Linked DNA regions of Homo sapiens: region 1 is linked to region 2. A link means that fine-mapping ties the variant in region 2 to the expression of a gene that starts in the linked region. Tissue or cell type: monocytes. Region 2 holds a variant in brackets; the other region holds the start of a gene. All regions are shown on one strand. Distances are between the middles of the regions.

Evidence for each region. PIP is the estimated chance that this variant, and not a neighbour inherited with it, causes the effect.
Region 1: ADI1 starts here. The variant in region 2 is fine-mapped to the expression of ADI1 in monocytes (TOPMed, PIP 0.94).

Annotation. Positions count from the first base shown.
Region 1 is chr2:3,515,076-3,523,252 of GRCh38, forward strand. ADI1 (acireductone dioxygenase 1) reads right to left here and starts at 4,456. Exons shown (of 4, transcript NM_018269.4): 1 at 4,293-4,456. The coding sequence starts at 4,412. LOC124907725 (a long non-coding RNA gene) reads left to right here and starts at 4,471. Exons shown (of 2, transcript XR_007086195.1): 1 at 4,471-4,881; 2 at 7,831-8,177. RefSeq lists silencers at 3,363-3,562, 4,043-4,102, 4,183-4,502, 4,573-4,702 and enhancers at 4,122-4,643, 4,644-5,164.
Region 2 is chr2:3,488,091-3,496,267 of GRCh38, forward strand. No RefSeq gene overlaps it. Among named protein-coding and RNA genes, the nearest start is that of TRAPPC12-AS1, 8.9 kb to the left of the region's middle. The variant C/A (reference allele first, on the strand shown) is at 3,476.

The DNA.
Region 1 (8,177 bases), 27 kb after region 2:
CAGTACACCTTAAAAAATAAAATAACAGCGATTTTTAGGGAACAAGGGAAGACAACCATAAGGTTTGACTGCCTGCAGGGTCAGGCAAAAACACCCATATTTTTCTTCTTGCAGAGAGCCTATAAATGGGCGTGCAAGTAGAGAAGGTATCACTAAATTCTTTTCCTAGGAAGGAATATTAATATTAATACTCTGGGGAAGGAATGCATTTCTGGGGGGAGGTCTATAAACAGCTGCTCTGGGAATGTCTGTCTTATGCGGTTGAGATAAGGACTGAGATACGCCCTGGTCTTCTGCAGTACCCTCAGGCTTACTAAGGTGGGGAAAAACTCCACCCTGGTAAATTTGTGGTCAGACCAGTTCTCTGCTCTCGAACCCTGTTTTCTGTTATTTAAGATGTTTATCAAGACAATATGTGCAGCACTGAACATAGATCTTTATCAGTGGTTCTGCTTTTGCCCTTTGCCCTGTGATCTTTGTTGGACCCTTATCAGTGGTTCTGCTTTTGCCCTTTGTCCTGTTCCCTCAGAAGCATGTGATCTTTGTTAGACCCTTATTAGTAGTTCTGCTTTTTGCCCTTTGAAGCCTGTGATATTTGTACCTACTCCCTGTTCTTACACCCCCTCCCCTTTTGAAACCCTTAATAAAAACTTGCTGGTCTGAGACTCAGGCGGGCATCACGGTCCTACCGATATGTGATGTCACCCCTGGCGGCCCAGCTGTAAAATTCCTCTCTTTATACTGTCTCTCTTTATTTCTCAGCTGGCCGACACTTATGGAAAATGGAACCTATGTTGAAATATTGGGGGTGGGTTCCCCCGATACTCCAGAACATATTAAAGTACTAGTCATCAATACGTTATTTTCTACAAAGTTGACTCTAAAACTTAGCCTATCCACTGCATGATATGCACAGTACTATTTGCTATGGTCTGAATGTGTCCATATTATGACACATAATATGTAATATGACACATTATATGACACGTGTCATAAGTTTAAATATACGAATGTTGAAACTTAACACAAATGTGATAGTATTAAGGGGTGGGACCTTTAGGATGTGATTAAGTCATGAGGGCAAGCCCTCATTTATAGGATTAGTGGCCTTGTAAGAGAGATGGAGCTGGGCACTGTGGCTCACACCTATAATCCCAGAACTTTGGGAGGCCAAGGTGGGCAGATCACCTGAGGTCAGGGGTTCAAGACCAGCCTGTCCAACATGGTGAAACCCCATCTCTACTAAAAATACAAAAATTAGCCAGGCATGGTGGTCCACGCCTGTGATCCCAGCTACTCGGGAGGCTGAGGCAGGAGAATCACTTGAATCCAGGAGGCAGAGGTTGCAGTGAGCCAAGACTGCGCTACCAGCCTGGGTGACAGAGCGAGGCTCCATCTCAAAAAAAAAAAAAAAAAAAAAAAAGAGCAAGAGAGATGTAAGAGAGCAGTTTGCCCCTTCCACCACATGAGGACAGAGCAAGGAAATGGCCGTCTATGAGGACAGGATCCTCATCAGACACTAAATCTGCTGGCACCTTAATCTTGGACTTCTTAGCCTCTAGAACTATAAGAATTCTATAAATTGCTGTTGTTTATAAATTGCCCAGTTTAAGCTATTTTTGTCATTTTGTTATAGCAGCAGGTATTTAGTTTATTCCAAGCTAAAATAATCTTCCAATTGTTTGTATGTATGACAAAAGGTTTTTTAGAACTCTATGTCACTAATAACAGATTGATTAAACAGATACACAAACATGTCCACATGTGTTACCTCTGTTAAAAATTATGGGAGATGTTACATATATATAATGTTAATATGGGGTGTGTGTGTGGCTTTTTTGTTTTTTGGGTTTTTTTAGAGATGAGGTCTCAAACTTCTGGCTTCAGGCAATCTGCCGCCTCAGCCTCCCAAAGTGCTGGGATGACAGAAGCCACCATGCCTGGCCCAGGAGAGGTCACTGTTTTGGACTGAGCCCCTGCACTAGGCCCCAGGATGAGACCAAACCAAAATGCAGCCACTCATGCCATATGCCACTTGATCAAACTAAAACTTTAAAGAAGGAGGTGCATCTCAAACAGACCAGCTTTTCCTGCGATCAGAAGATTCCAGTCTTCCTGAGTCAGAATAATAAGGAAGTCGCTTCTGCTTTAACCCTTAGGAAAAAAGTAACCTAATGTAACTTGACGTTAACCAATCAGCTTTTCTACCTATTGTTCTGTTTCTTTGTTGCCGCCCTACAAAACCCACTGTTGTGCTATTACCCTATCGAGCTCTTATTCTATTTTGTAGAACGGAGGTTGCCCTATTCACAAATCAAGAATAAAAGCTAATTAGATCTTTAACTAAATTTGTTGTAATTTTGTCTTCCAACAGCACTGATCCAGAATGGATATTAAGAAAGCATATAGGCCGGGTGCGGTGGTTCGTGTCTATAATGCCAGCACTTTGGGAGGCCGAAGTGGGTGGATCACCTGAGGTCAGCAGTTCAAGATCAGCCTGACCAACATGGAGAAACCCTGTCTCTACTAAAAATACAAAATTAGCCCGGCATGGTGCTGTGCACCTTGTAATCCCAGCTACTCGGGAGGCTGACACATGAGAATGGCTTGAACTCGGGAAGATGAGGTTGCGGTGAGCCGAGATCATGCCACTGCACTCCAGCCTGGGCAAAAAGAGCAAAAAAAAAAAAGAAAGGAAGAATATAAAAACACACAGGACATTAAAACCACAGAGTAAACATGATTTAATTTTGATAGCCCTGACTCAGAGCAGAACTAGACGGTAGGAAAAACTATGTTTGAGCCCATGTAATAATCTAAAAGATGTCTATTAAAATAAATCTTATTTTATTCTTTGAATACATTAAGAAGCTGACCTGTAATCTCACTCTTGTTCTTGTTCTTAAAACCGTCAAATGCACAATGAAACTCCCCAAGTGTATTAATTTGAACCCTCTGGTTGTTTGGATTGTGGATAAACATAATAAGTCAAAATTTATTCTCCTCTCATTAATGGAAAACTATAAACCACTTGATTGCTTTGAAGAAGTACCCTCCAGCAAGGTAAGTGTTAAACCTTATCCTAGGAAAAGACAAATACTATGTAAACATTAACATGCATGCCCTGTTTCGCACTGGTATGCCAATTGTCACTTCCCTCTTCTGTTATTTAGGATAGAACAAGATGATATCCAAATAGATTATGCTGGAATATTCTATAATCCTTTCCCAAGGGAAAAAGTGTGGTGTCCAGGTAACCCTGTGTATTTCATTTAAATCACATGAATGAAGATTAGATCCAGTCACCCCTCAGCCTATCCCTGAGGCCTACCCTGGCCCTCTCTTTTGCAGTAAACCTTTGTTACTGCAAAACCATTTGCAAATAAACAAGGTGAGCGGATCTGGACTGGTGCTGTGCAAGCAACGGGACACCGGTGCAAAGCCTAGCCCCGCCTTGCAAAGCTAGCGTTACAGAGGCAGGGCTGACACCGGGCCCAGCCGGGACCCAAGCCAGCTCCACCGCCCACTGGAGACGCCCCCACCCCACCACCGAGCGCTACCCCCCGGGGATCCCCGACAGACCGCGGCAGGACCCCGCCTCGATCTGCTGGCGCCCGGTCCCTCCCCCAGGACACTTTCAAGCGGAGTCCCCCTTCCTCCGATAGAAGAAACCCCTGGGCCTTTGACCGAGGTTAGCCAGGCAGGCAGGGCGTCGGACAAGCCCAACGAGCCCACGAACTCGCAGCCCGCCTCCGGCGAATCTTGCAGCCCTGCCGGCCGACCCTTCAGGTCGCTGCCAATCCCGGAGCTGCGCGTGCGCAGCGAGTCCCGGCTGCGAGGCCCCTGACTCGCCAACTCTGCTGCTGAGCATGCGCAGCACACCCCAGGCAACAGAAACGGACCGCCGACCCCCACCAGCCCCGCTGCTGAGCATGCGCAGCCCACCCCAGGCGCCGGAAGCCGACCGCCAACCCCGTAAACTTCGCTGCTGAGCATGCGCAGCACACCACAGGCGCTGGGGGCTGACCGCCGACCCCTCAACGCCGCTGCTGAGCATGCGCAGCACACCCAGGCGCCGCGCAGGAGGCCCTGACCACCCAGCCCCACTGCTGAGCATGCGCAGCCCACCCCAGGCACCGGGAGCCGCCACGAACCCCCAAATCCCGCTGCTGAGCATGCGCAGCATGCCGCGGCTCCCAGGCCGCTGCCCGGCACCTGGAGGAGGCTGGGCTGTGCGCGGCGTTTGGGGGTCGGCGTCGCCCGCACGCTCTGCGAGGCTTGGGCTCGCGTACCTTCCAGTAGAGCACCCCGAGCCGCCGCAGCTGCTCCAGGCCCACTGGGCGGCCGGGGTCGGGGCGGTGGGGTTGCCGCGGGTCGCCCGGGGCGTCGTCCATATACCAGGCCTGCACCATGACGCGCAGTGCGGGTGCCGTGTTCGAACCCAGGGGCCGCGCTCGGAGCCCGTCGGCCGCGCTTTATCTTATAGGGAGGCGTGGACGCGCATGGGAGCCGGGATTGGGCGGCTGGTTGGAGGCAGGGCCGGCGCGGGGGAGGCCCCACGGCTCCGCTGTTTTCGGAAGCAAAGGCATTCAAGCCCCGACCCTGTCCTGGGCACCCTCGGACCTGCCTGAGGCCCGCGGCCCGGGGCCAGCCGTTCGCCAGACGCGCCGGGCAGGTGAAGCTCACCGTAGGCATCGCACGTGCCTTGTGTGTGCTGCCGCGGTCTCCCTGCACCTTCAGAGCAATCTTGTGAGGCAAACGACGTTAAACGTGTTTAGAGTATGGAAAGCAAATGCAAAAAAAAAAAAAAAAGAATAAGGATTTTGTTAAGCTCATGCAGTCCATATGGGCACAGTTGAGACTTCACAGCTCGGATCCCAGGTGAGACATTGTCCTCCACCTCCCCGCTCGCCAGACTTTTGCAGTGTCGGCATTCTGCAGTGCTACCCTGTACTTTTTAAACTTCCTCTTGTTTCCTCTTTTCATCGTTTCTCCCTTCCCCATACACTGTAATGTGCTAGTCTTAGAATAAAAACAAGCTTCCCCTATCCCATTCTGAATTTTTCAATGTAGCTAATAAAGTCCAGCCGCTTGACCATCCTAGATGTCTTTTCAAACCAACGAGTTGAAAAAGATCAGATTATCTCAGCCATTCCCTCAGTCTCTTTAACAAATAACGATAAAGCAGACAGGATTTAAATGAGACTGCTGTAAGAGCACAACCCCAATGCATGCAATTGACTCTTGAACTTCCAGAAATATTGCAAGAAAAATACACACTTATTTCATTTCTGTTCCCTTGCTCTAATGGCTTTGCAAATACATCCTCCTTAGAGAGCCTACCTCTCCACCTCTTCACTTGACCAGTTACTACTCATCCTTCAAGAACACACCTTAGACGCCATTGCCCATTTTTCTGCAGCACTCATGACAAACCTTCATGCAAGAATCTAATGGCAATCTCGCACCTCGCATTTTCTCCTTAAGCCACTGCAATAAGGCTTCGCTTCTCACCACTGGGGAACTGCTAATGACTGCCATATTGCCAGATCCAATCATGGCACTTCTGTTCTTACCAGCAACATTCGTCACAGTTGCCCACGCCCTTCTTGAAACATTTTCTCATTTTCCTTCATGAGGGCATCTTGGCTGCTCCTTCCCAGGCCCCTCCTAGCTCCTGCTCCTCTAACCACTGGTTAGTGGAGCGTTCCAGACTCTCCTCGTCCTGTTCCTATCCACTCACTCCAGGCGACTTTCCATGCTGTGCTGCCGGCTCCTGCAGCCACATCTCCAACCTGGACCTCATTCCAGAACCTCAGGCTTGAGTATCCAGTTGGTGTTGTCACATACATGGCTAATCAGTGTGTCAAACCTAACATGGCCAAAACAACTGATTCCCCACACACACCCCCAAACATGCTTCTCCCTAACCTTTCCCGTCTCAGTGAACGGCAGCACTGACTGCCCAGTGGCTTAATAAAAAAATCTAGGTGTACTCTCAGTTTTGCTTTTCCTCACCCTCAAGATCCAATCCAATCTATCAGCAAGTCATGTTGCTTTGACCTTCGAAACACACCGCAAATCCATTCACTTCTCTCCAGCCCAACTCTTTCTGCAGTCTTTTCTTGCCTGATGGAATTGACTACTGAAATTCCCCCTCCTCACACCGCTTCCATTTTTGCCCCAGTGCAATCCATTCTATGCACAGCACCCAGAGTGACCTTTTAAAAATAGGAGCCAGATGCCAGGCACTGTGGCTCACGCCTGTAATTCCAGCACTTCGGGAGCCCAAAGAGGGTAGATCACTTGACCAGCCGAGGCAACATGGTGAAACCCCGTCTCTACTAAAAGTACAAAAATTAGCTGGCCGTGGTGGTTTGCACCGCTAGTCCCAGCTACTCTGCAGGCTGAGACAGGAGGATTGCTTGAGCCTGGGAGTCTGAAGTTGCAGTGAGTTGAGATTGTACCACTGCACTGTAGCCTGGGTGACAGAGCAAGACTCTGTCTCAAAAAACAAACAAACAAAAAAACATGGAATCCAGTCAAGCCCCTTTTCTGCTTCAACCCTCCTTTCTATAGCCTCGGCCTGACCACCTCACAGCCCATCGCCCTCCTTTCTTGTTCTCTGTCCTCCAGATACTTTGGCCTTTCAGTGTATTTGAGTCATATGCTCCTCCTTCCTTTGGGCCCTTCACCCATGCAGTTTTTCCACTGAAAATGCTCTTCCTTCCTCCAAGTACTTTTCTCCTATACAAAATTCTAATTTCAGCTTAACTATCCCTTTCGTAGAGAAGCCTTCTCTGACCACTCCCTAGACAACTAGATGGGCTCTCCGTGTGAAACACTGCCATGGTGCTAGCTTAGAGTTTGTAAGGACATGTTGACTTGATGTCTTTTCACCAAAGGACTGACCACTCCATGTGTTGTTTGGTACTTGCTGAATGAATGGATTTGTCTGTATTGCTGAGTGCCGCATATACCTTGAGGTCAGAGAATGTGTCTTATTAGTCCTTCAGTGCTTGGTACATAGTAGACAATTTTTTTAAAAGTTTGTTGAATGAAGGGATAGGATGAGGAACACTCCAAATAGTCTTTACTGTCTTACTGTAACTGCACTCCTATCTCATATCTAATGCTTCTCATTTACTAGAAAATAGTAGTACTAGGCTGGGTGCTGTGGCTCATGCCTGTAATCCCAACACTTTGGGAGGCCAAGGTGGGAGGATCACTTGAGGCCAGGAGTTCCAGATCAGCCTGGGCAATACAGCAAGACCCCATCTCTACAAAAAATATTTTTATTAAAAAGAAAATAGTAATTGTGACAATAATAATAGTAGTGTGTGCTGGGTAACATTTTAAAGATTTGATGCATATTATTATTTTTACTCCTCATGATTACACTGTGAAGTTGGTATGACTTATTATCCACATTTTAAAGATGAGACATGGGAGGCTGAGGCAGGAGGACTGCTTGAGCCCAGGAGTTTGAGACCAGTCTGGGCAACACAGCAAGACCCCATATCACTTAAAAACAAATGAGACAACTAGGACACAAACAGGTGAAGTAACTTATGGTCACACAACCAGAAGTGACAAAGCTGGTATTTGAGCTTGGGGAGCCCAGCCCAACAGCCTGTACACATAACTGCTAAAATCGAGTACAAGAAGTAATGATGTGGGTTTCATCCCATCGTAGAATAAACTTCATCTTGAAATTGGAAGAGTGCTTCCGGTTCCCCTCCCACCCCCAGGCTGCGGCAGCCCCACACCATTATGTATCTACCATTTGTCAGCCTCTGTCTTCAGTAGCTGTTCCTTTTTTCCTATTAGGTATGGGGGAAACAGTTTTATGCCATAAAAAACATACTTTAGAAAAGCAAGATGATGGAGAGGCTCTGAGGAATTGCCAAGGCAGCCCAGCACTTGCTGCTGGCAGGAGTTCAAGCGGGCAGAATCAGATGAGAACAGCACTCATTACTTCATACGGACATTGCCGGCCCATGGGATTCCTCCTTTGAAGAGGAATCTTTGGAACTTGAACTGTCTCTTCCAGAAGAATAGCCAGCAGCAGCCCAAAAATATGTTTCATGACCAGAATTTATCACCCCGATGTAAGACACTTGGGAAGAATCTGTTTAGATGTTTTGAAAGACAGATGGTCGCCATCGCCGCAGACC
Region 2 (8,177 bases):
GACTGAGGCACAGCTTGAAGAACCTGCCCACGGCCACACAGCTACTGCAGCAGCAGAACTGGGGTGATTCCATCTGAGCCTTCATCCATGCAGACACCTCCAAGCCCAAGGCATCCACGGAGGGCTCCTCCCTCGTCTTCTCCACACCCCAAGCTCACAGGGATGTTTCTCTGTGGAGGTGGAGCAGGCAGTGCTGCCCTGGGGCCTCTATCCTGGGATCTCTGGGGCCAGCTTCAATGTCATCATGGGTGGCCGCTGGCCCAAAGTCCTGCTCAGCAGCAGCAGCAGCAGGACAGGCCTCTGGAGAGCATGCCTCTGTCTCTGGCCCTGCCAGTGGCGTCCTTGTGTCCTTGGGGACCCCACACACACACATTCTTCTGCAGAGGCAATCAATAAAGCCGGGGCACCAAGGAGGCTTCAGGAGTGATTAGCAATGGAGCAGGCTGGAAAATACGCGGACGCTAGGGCAGATCGTATTGATTCCATTGACTTGCCCTTTGCCAGGCTGTTGTATTTATAACTCAGATGAAATCCTATTTGGATTTTAGAATGGGTGGGTTTATAACTCAGATGAAATCCTATTTGGATTTTAGAATGGGTGGGTTTATAACTCAGATGAAATCCTATTTGGATTTTAGAATGGGTGGGTTTTTTTGAACAGTTGGTGCAAAATAAACACAAGCATTTTTAACATGGACAATGAAACACATTAAACTATAATAATAAAGGCAGGCAGGCAAGCACGTCCATGGGAAAGTGGTTTCAGTTGAAAAGTAAGCTCCACCCCAGAACTGTCACACCTGCACTGCTCACGCCAGGGACAGACCGTGATAGGAGCACAGCCTCCTGTCCTCCAGCCCCCGCCCAGCCCAGCTTCCCCAGCCCTGCTGACCTGGGGGCTGTCTTCATGCCTGGATGCTTCTAGTGCCCTGCCCCCGCCACGTTTAAGAGAATGTTTTGAAAAATAATCACTTCCCAAGGCAGAAAACAGAGAGCAAAACACAGAGCGATTCAGAAGAGCCGCCTGCTCAGGGGTGCCCCGGATGTTATCTGCAACCTGGCACGGCCCGACTGCAGGCCTCAGCCCTGTGCCCTGGCCCCACCTGAGCAATTCCTCTGCCCTCTTCAGGGCCCAGCCAGGTGGTCACAGCAAATCTGGTCAGGACCAGGGACAATCAGCCCGCAGGGACGTCCTGCCTCAGCCATCCACTTGATGGTGACGACTGCCCCGACCCCTCTCTCTCAGCAGCTGTGCCTGCCTGGAGCCCCCGTACCCCTCACCCGGCCGTAAGGGCTGCTGCACCCTCTGCTCTCCTCACTGGACTGTGGCGTCCTGAGGAACCCACCAGCCACTTTCTTATGCATCTCGGCACTCAGGGGACAAAACCAGCTCTCCCGGAGGGGCTTGTGGGACCGAGTTTCACTGAGAGACATGGTGAATGGAAGAACTTCACGCATCATAGCAGGCAGAGGACTCCGGGAGCCCTTGACCCAACCCACAGGTCATCTTACCAGTACTAGCGACTCACTGCGGTAGTGAGTTGGGTGAGGCCCAGAAGTCCCTCCTGGTCACTTGCGATGGGATGAAGATATTTTTGAAACCTAGAGAGACAGGGTTATCTAACAGAGTAAGAAAGCCAGGGCTGGCTTCTTTCCCCTCGGAATGAAGTTCAAGCCTCCTCTGTCCCATAAGTGCACAAATGTCCACCGTGCTAACTTTACACGCTCCATTTTTACTTTGGGCAAGCAGGATTTGCAGCGCGGGAGAGATGACCTGGACATGAGCCGGCAGTGGCCTGCGCACCACAGGAGGCCCTTCAGCCGACGGCCATGTCTGCGCTGCGCGATCCTGTCCCTGTCAGAGCCGCTGACCTGGGTCTAGTCCCACAGAACCTCTCCTGGAGCCTTGGGGACCAGGGCTGGCAGCTGAAGTCACTCCTCTGCGTAATGGAATGAGAAGTAAGGCTTTAAGACGTCAACACTGTGTCTACACTGTGTCCCACCGTGAGCAGACGTGGCTTGGTCCCTGATCCCCCAGGGCAGGCACCCCCAGGCACAGGCTCCTTCACATTGGGCTTCTGTCACTTGTAACAAAAAGAGCCCCAACTAAGACAACAGAAGAGATCGTGTAACGACATTTCGAAGCACAGAGTCGGAATCCTGGGAAGACGAGAACGGCAATCCTGGGCAAAGCTCCAGGCAGATGCAGGGCCAGAGCCTCCCTCAGGGCTCCTCCCAGGACCTCCCCCCAGGGCTCCTCCCAGGACCTCCCCCCAGGGCTCCCGGCCTCTGCAGGTTGCCTGGGACAAGAGGTCTTCCTTCCTAGTCCCTCTAACCTCTCCACTGAGAGCACCCCATGAGCCTGGCGCCCCAGGCACTGTGCAGGAGGGAACAGCAGGCCGGCAGCCTCTGCCCTGTGGGTCCGCACAGCCTGGGGAGCGGGGACAGAATGCACCCCCCACTGCGATCCCACCTGTCTGCCTCCATCCTTCCCCATCCACTCCGAGGCCGGACGTTGCCTGACTAGGACAGCTCTTCTCCTATTTCTCAGATGTCTGTTCCATTGGTTTCTCTTTGTCAAGATGTCTGATCCACCGTCAGCAGTTTCTTGAGTGGAGGTGAGCACTGTGGTTAGGGAGTCACACTTAGGCACCAGTTACCTACGCCATGTAACAACACTGCTCTGAAACTTGTGCCTTATGACAGGAACATACATTCTCGCCTGCAGTCTCCGGGTTAGCTGGGTGGTGTGGGGCTCTCCTGAGGTTGCCCTCAAGGTGACGGCTGGGGCTGCATCATCTGAAGGCTCAACGGGGGCTGGAGGACCTGCTTCCACACACCCCGAGCCAGCAGCACTGCTGGCAGAGGCCTCAGACCTCCCCAGAGAGCTGCACAAGTGTCCTGCGGACGTGGCAGCCAGCTTCCCCAGAGCGCAATGTCTGAGAGCAAGCAGGAAACTACATGCCAACAGAGGCCACCCACAGCCACCTCAGCCGCTTCCTACTCATTAGAAACAAGTGACCAACAGAGACCATGCTGAAGGGGAGGATAAATTGAGGGAGATCGTCAGAAACTTGTGGTTGTATTTTTTAAAACAACACACTTAATTTTTTAAAAAATTGTTGTCATTTCACTGGATTTGGGGCACTGGGGAGACTGACCCACATCTTCTCCTCCACCACCCAGATTCCTATCATGTGCTGATCTGAACGTTTAATTTTCAGAAAGGAGAAAGTCTCCTCCAAGTTCTTCAGGAAATTCATCCCAATATTCATCAGATGCTTTTAAGGAACACCAGAAAAAACTCCAGGTCTGCCCTGGGGATAGCTCTGAACCCCCTGTGTGGTTTAACACACACAGAACTTCCCGTTGCACTGCTGACAGGTACCACGTGGGAAAGAGCTCACTGGGGTCAGCAAAGCTGGGGAAGCAAAGCTAAGCACAGCCCCGAGGCCTCCAGCTGCTCCCTGCACGA[C/A]GGCTCTCCCCAAGAGGGACTCAGACTCCCAACCCATAATAGAACCCTTTCAATGCATGGCTTCACAGACTAGCTTTCCTCAGAGCATGCATTGTAAAGACACCAGCCTGGAGCGTCAGTTGGGAGTTTATCATCCAAAGACCATTAGAGGAGCAAAAATCCCCACCTGTCACCCAGCTCCAAGAGTCAGAGACCCCCAAGTTGCAAGGAACAGCAAAGGAGCCCCACGCCACAGGCCACTCGGCCACCTCCCTTCCGTCTCCAAGGGGGTCTGAAGACCTCAGGATGGTGCAAGCCCCAGGGAGGCCCCGGAGAGCCTTTGTTTCCCCTTTCGGTGACTGAGCCAGCCCTGCTGTCAGCATCCCTGACGGGTCAGGCCATCCTAGGGCCCTCGCTGGCCAGGTGGCCCTGCACACACATGCTCCCAGGTGGCACCCGGGGCCAGAGATCCCCTAATGAATTTCTTGCTGCACATAGGCTGAGTCCAGGGACTGTACATGCTCTCCTGCATCTTTGCTGGGAGCTCCATCTCTGCTGGGAGCACCATGCTATATCTGCTGTGTGTCTGTGACCCTCATCTGTGACACCCTGGTTCCAGACTTTATTTTCGGTCTCAACACACATGTAATAAGAGATGTGTGCAAAGGGACTTTCAGGATAAACTGGCTCCACCACCCTATCCCTTCGCCAGCGCCTGGCCCAGTGTCCAGCACACAGGAGGCAAGCATTTCTCAGATGTGGGATGCATGGCGCATCCCAGCGTCTTCTTTGTCAGAGAATGAGGGAGAAAAGAAACCACCAGAGTCTCCTGAAGGTGTTGCTGGAAAGAGCCCAGCTCACTGGCCGTGCACCTGCAGGCCGCTGGCCTCAGCACAGCCCCATCCCTAGAGTTCTCCCACGCCGCTGACAACAGGCGCTCCATCCATGGCCCGTGAAGTGCCCACGGGCTGCAGGTCTTCCCTTGAGATTCAGAAAGTACCTGCCGCTCAGCCCCTGTACACACCTGTCATGCCTCTCGGGCTCAAGTGATCCTCCCACCTCAGCACCTCAGTATCTGGGACCACAGGTGCCTACCACCCTGCTCGGCTAATTTTTGTATTTTTAGTAGAGATGGCGTTTCACCATGTTAGCCAGGCTGGTCTCAAACTCCTCAAGTGATCCTCCTGCCTCGGCCTCCTGAAGTGCTGGGATTACAGGCGTAAGCCACCGCGCCCGTCCTTTTTGTAATTAGGTTTTCACTGCATAAATCATAAAACGATTACAGGTCTCCAGAAACTGCTGCCTGATACACTTTCCAAAGTAAACAGCTTTTGGAAAAATGGCTGTTTTTAGATCACATCTAAATGTCGCATTCTTGGTCTGTGTGACTAGAACCAGACTCCAGCCATCCACCCGCCCACCTGGGGTATCACACACCAGGCTCTGGGAACGCGCAAGAAGCCGGCATGCTGGGAAGTTACTCATAGCTCCTGGGGTCACCCTCCCGCCCCATGCCCATCCGGATGAGATGTTTTCGTGAGTTGCGTAACTCACAGCCACCCGGTAACACGATCGACCAACAGAGGCCTCACTCTCGGGAAACCGAGGAGCCCGGCCGAGGCAGGGGAGCCCATCTTAGTTGTCAGAGCTGCGTCATGAGAACAAAATGTCTGAAGCTGCCAACTTCACCACAGAACTAGGGAAAACACCTCCATCAATAGAACCAGACGATCTCCTTGTGGACACGCAGGAAAACGTCTGCAGTGGTTACCTCACACGCCCCTCCTTGGGGGACAGGCAGGGAAAGAAAGGTCATGGAGCCCACAGTGGCTCATTTACATCCCTCAGTTCGTAACCACCAGCCTCTACAGGCTCTCTGAAGAGCTCGCAGAAGCACACGTGCACACACAGGCACGCAGGTCCACACGCATGCACACAAGTCCAACCACATGCATGACGATGTAAGCGCAGAAATGAGACCCCCTCCATCTCGGATTGGGTTTAATCTCCTGCAAATCAGCAAATCAGCAGCCACTCTGTGCAGTCAGGTGCCCACTGCAGCCCGGTTTGCCTTTCTAAATTTCATCTTAATTTAAGGAGGTAAAGAATGAAGTCCACACTCCACAGGATAACTACTTCTAAGGAGCTGGAAAGCTGTCTGGCTTATTGACACAAATTTAAGAAGGAATATTTCCTCCAAAGTCTTGGGTGAACCACAGCAGCTTGGGCAGTGTGGACGTCTGGCGTCCTGAGCTTGTGCTGGGCTGGAAGGAGAGCGGGGGAGTTTGTAAGGCAGGTTGCAGTGGTGTGGGCGGGAGACAGGGGTGGCGTTCACAGTGAGAGACGGCCAGGGGAGGCCCCTAGGAAGAATCCGCCCATCACAGTGGACGGAAGCCACGATTGGACGTGAGGCTTAATGTGAGCTCTGTGTACAAACAAAGCAACCAGCTCATTCTGTAGACCAGTATTAAACATGCTTATATTTTAAAATACAATTTTGATGCAAGAATTGAATTTAGTAGCTATATTTTCTAATCAAACATTAGAATATGTGGTCTGTACATATACGGCCAGAGGACAGAATGTCAGAAATGGGGACTGCAGGAAATAAACTGAGCTACGCAGTCACTGTGAGCCTAGCTCCTCCCTGCTTCCACCTAGTTCCAGTCCGATGAGGAGTGAGTCTCTCTTCGTCCTTCCCTTCTGTAAGAGGTCAATTTAGGCTTTTTTAAAATGGAGAGTTCAGGGTCATGAGCTGATAGCGGAGGCCTCTTTATCGTCATTTTTAATCAGCTCACACACAGAGACCATCACTGGGGCCCTGGCTAAGGAGGGGCATCTGCTGACAGTCGCTGCTCAGAGGCCAGCGGAGCGTCTCACCGGGCTCTCCATTCTTCCTTCTACACTTGAATGATAAGGATCGCAAATTTAAAGTAAAATCTTGAGCCCCCCAACTGACTGAATGGAACCCGTTGGCCAACCTTAAAAAACGAGTTCCCAGCCGGGGCGCAGTGGCTCAAGCCTGTAATCCCAGCACTTTGGGAGGCCAAGGCGGGCAGATAATGAGGTCAGGAGATCGAGACCAACCTGTCCAACACAGTGAAACCCCGTCTCTAATAAAAATACAAAAAATTAGCCGGGCGTGGTGGCAGACGCCTGTAATCCCAGCTACTCGGGAGGCTGAGGCAGGAGAATGGCGTGAACCTGGGAGGTGGAGCTTGCAGTGAGCCAAGATCGCGCCACTACACTCCAGCCTGGGTGACAGAGCGAGACTCCGTCTCAAAAAAAAAAAAAAAAAAAAAAATGAGTTCCCAGGCACGATGGACGGGAGGTCAGACACACCCCACTATACCCCCTCCCTTTTGGGATTTAGACACAACTGGCCAGCATTCATGTTAAAATAGAGATGGTGAGACCAGAGAACAGACTGTGGCAATAAGACACAAATCACACACAGGACCTAAGGCCTGGCCAGGCTACAGCGAAGTCTCGCACCCTGAACCTAAATAAGAAACTCTGTCCTCACCACCACCAAGGTTTTCTTCTCCAGCAGCTAAACCAGCGTTGGCCTTGAGATGAGCAAGATGAAAACAAGTCGTAGTTTATCCACCACCCGATGCTGGCTAACTGGCCCTGTTCCACCAGCCGTAACTACAGCTTTGATGGAACAAGAGACCGATTTCAGTAACTTCCTCTGGACAAGAATAAGCCCATGGATGGGCTCTGGCCGGCTGATAGAGGCTGAGCACTGGGAGCCTTCATGTCCCTGTTTCACCTTTAGAAGTGCAGAGCCTGCCTGGGATGCACGTAGATGTTAAGTCTCCTCTCCAAGGTGAACATGGGTTGTATGTAAGTGGATGTTTGTTCAATACACATGCGTCAGGACCACTTCATGAATATTCACAGCTCCTCCTGTAACCTGTTGAATATGTATGATCCTCCAGCCCATTCAGCATAAAGCTCCTGCCCCTTCTCCTCCAAGATGCCTGTCTGCGGTCTCTGCGGGAGGCTGTGCTTCCCAGCCTGCGGGATGCCACCTTGCAGAGTGTAACTCTTTACAAGAAATAATGTCTTTAGGTGGGCATGGTGGCTCACACCTGTAATCCCAACACTTTGGGAGGCCCAGGCGGATGGATCACCCAAGGTCAGGAGTTCGAGACCAGCCTGGCAACATGGTGAAACCCCATCTCCACTGAAAATACAAAAAAAATTAGCCGGGTGTGGTGGTGCACGCCTGTAATCCCAGCTACTCGGGAGGCTGAGGCAGGAGAATCGCTTGAACCCAGGAGGCAGAGGTTGCAGTGAGCCAAGATCACACCCCTCCACTCCAGCCTGGGCGACGAGAATGAAACTCCATCTCAAAAAAAAAGAAAAGAAAAAGAAAGAATGTCTCCTCTTCTAAATGTATAGATTGTGTCATCTTTTAGTTAACAAGATGAAGAGATGGATGGCAAGAAGAGAAATAAAAATCAGAAAGGAGATGATCCTATTCACTTTTCGGAAGTGAGGACAAAACCAAATAGGGAAATGAGCCGCCGCAGGAATGAAGAAGCCTGTAACAGCTATTCCAAACCGGGAGAGCGTCCTGGGGCCAGGACTTCATTGGGATAAGATGTTGAATCTGGAACAAGATAGAACAAGGCTGGACATTTCCTGGATTATCCACGCCTACTCCTTAGAAACAAGCGTGAAGTCCCCACAATGCGAGCAGGCCTCTCACCAG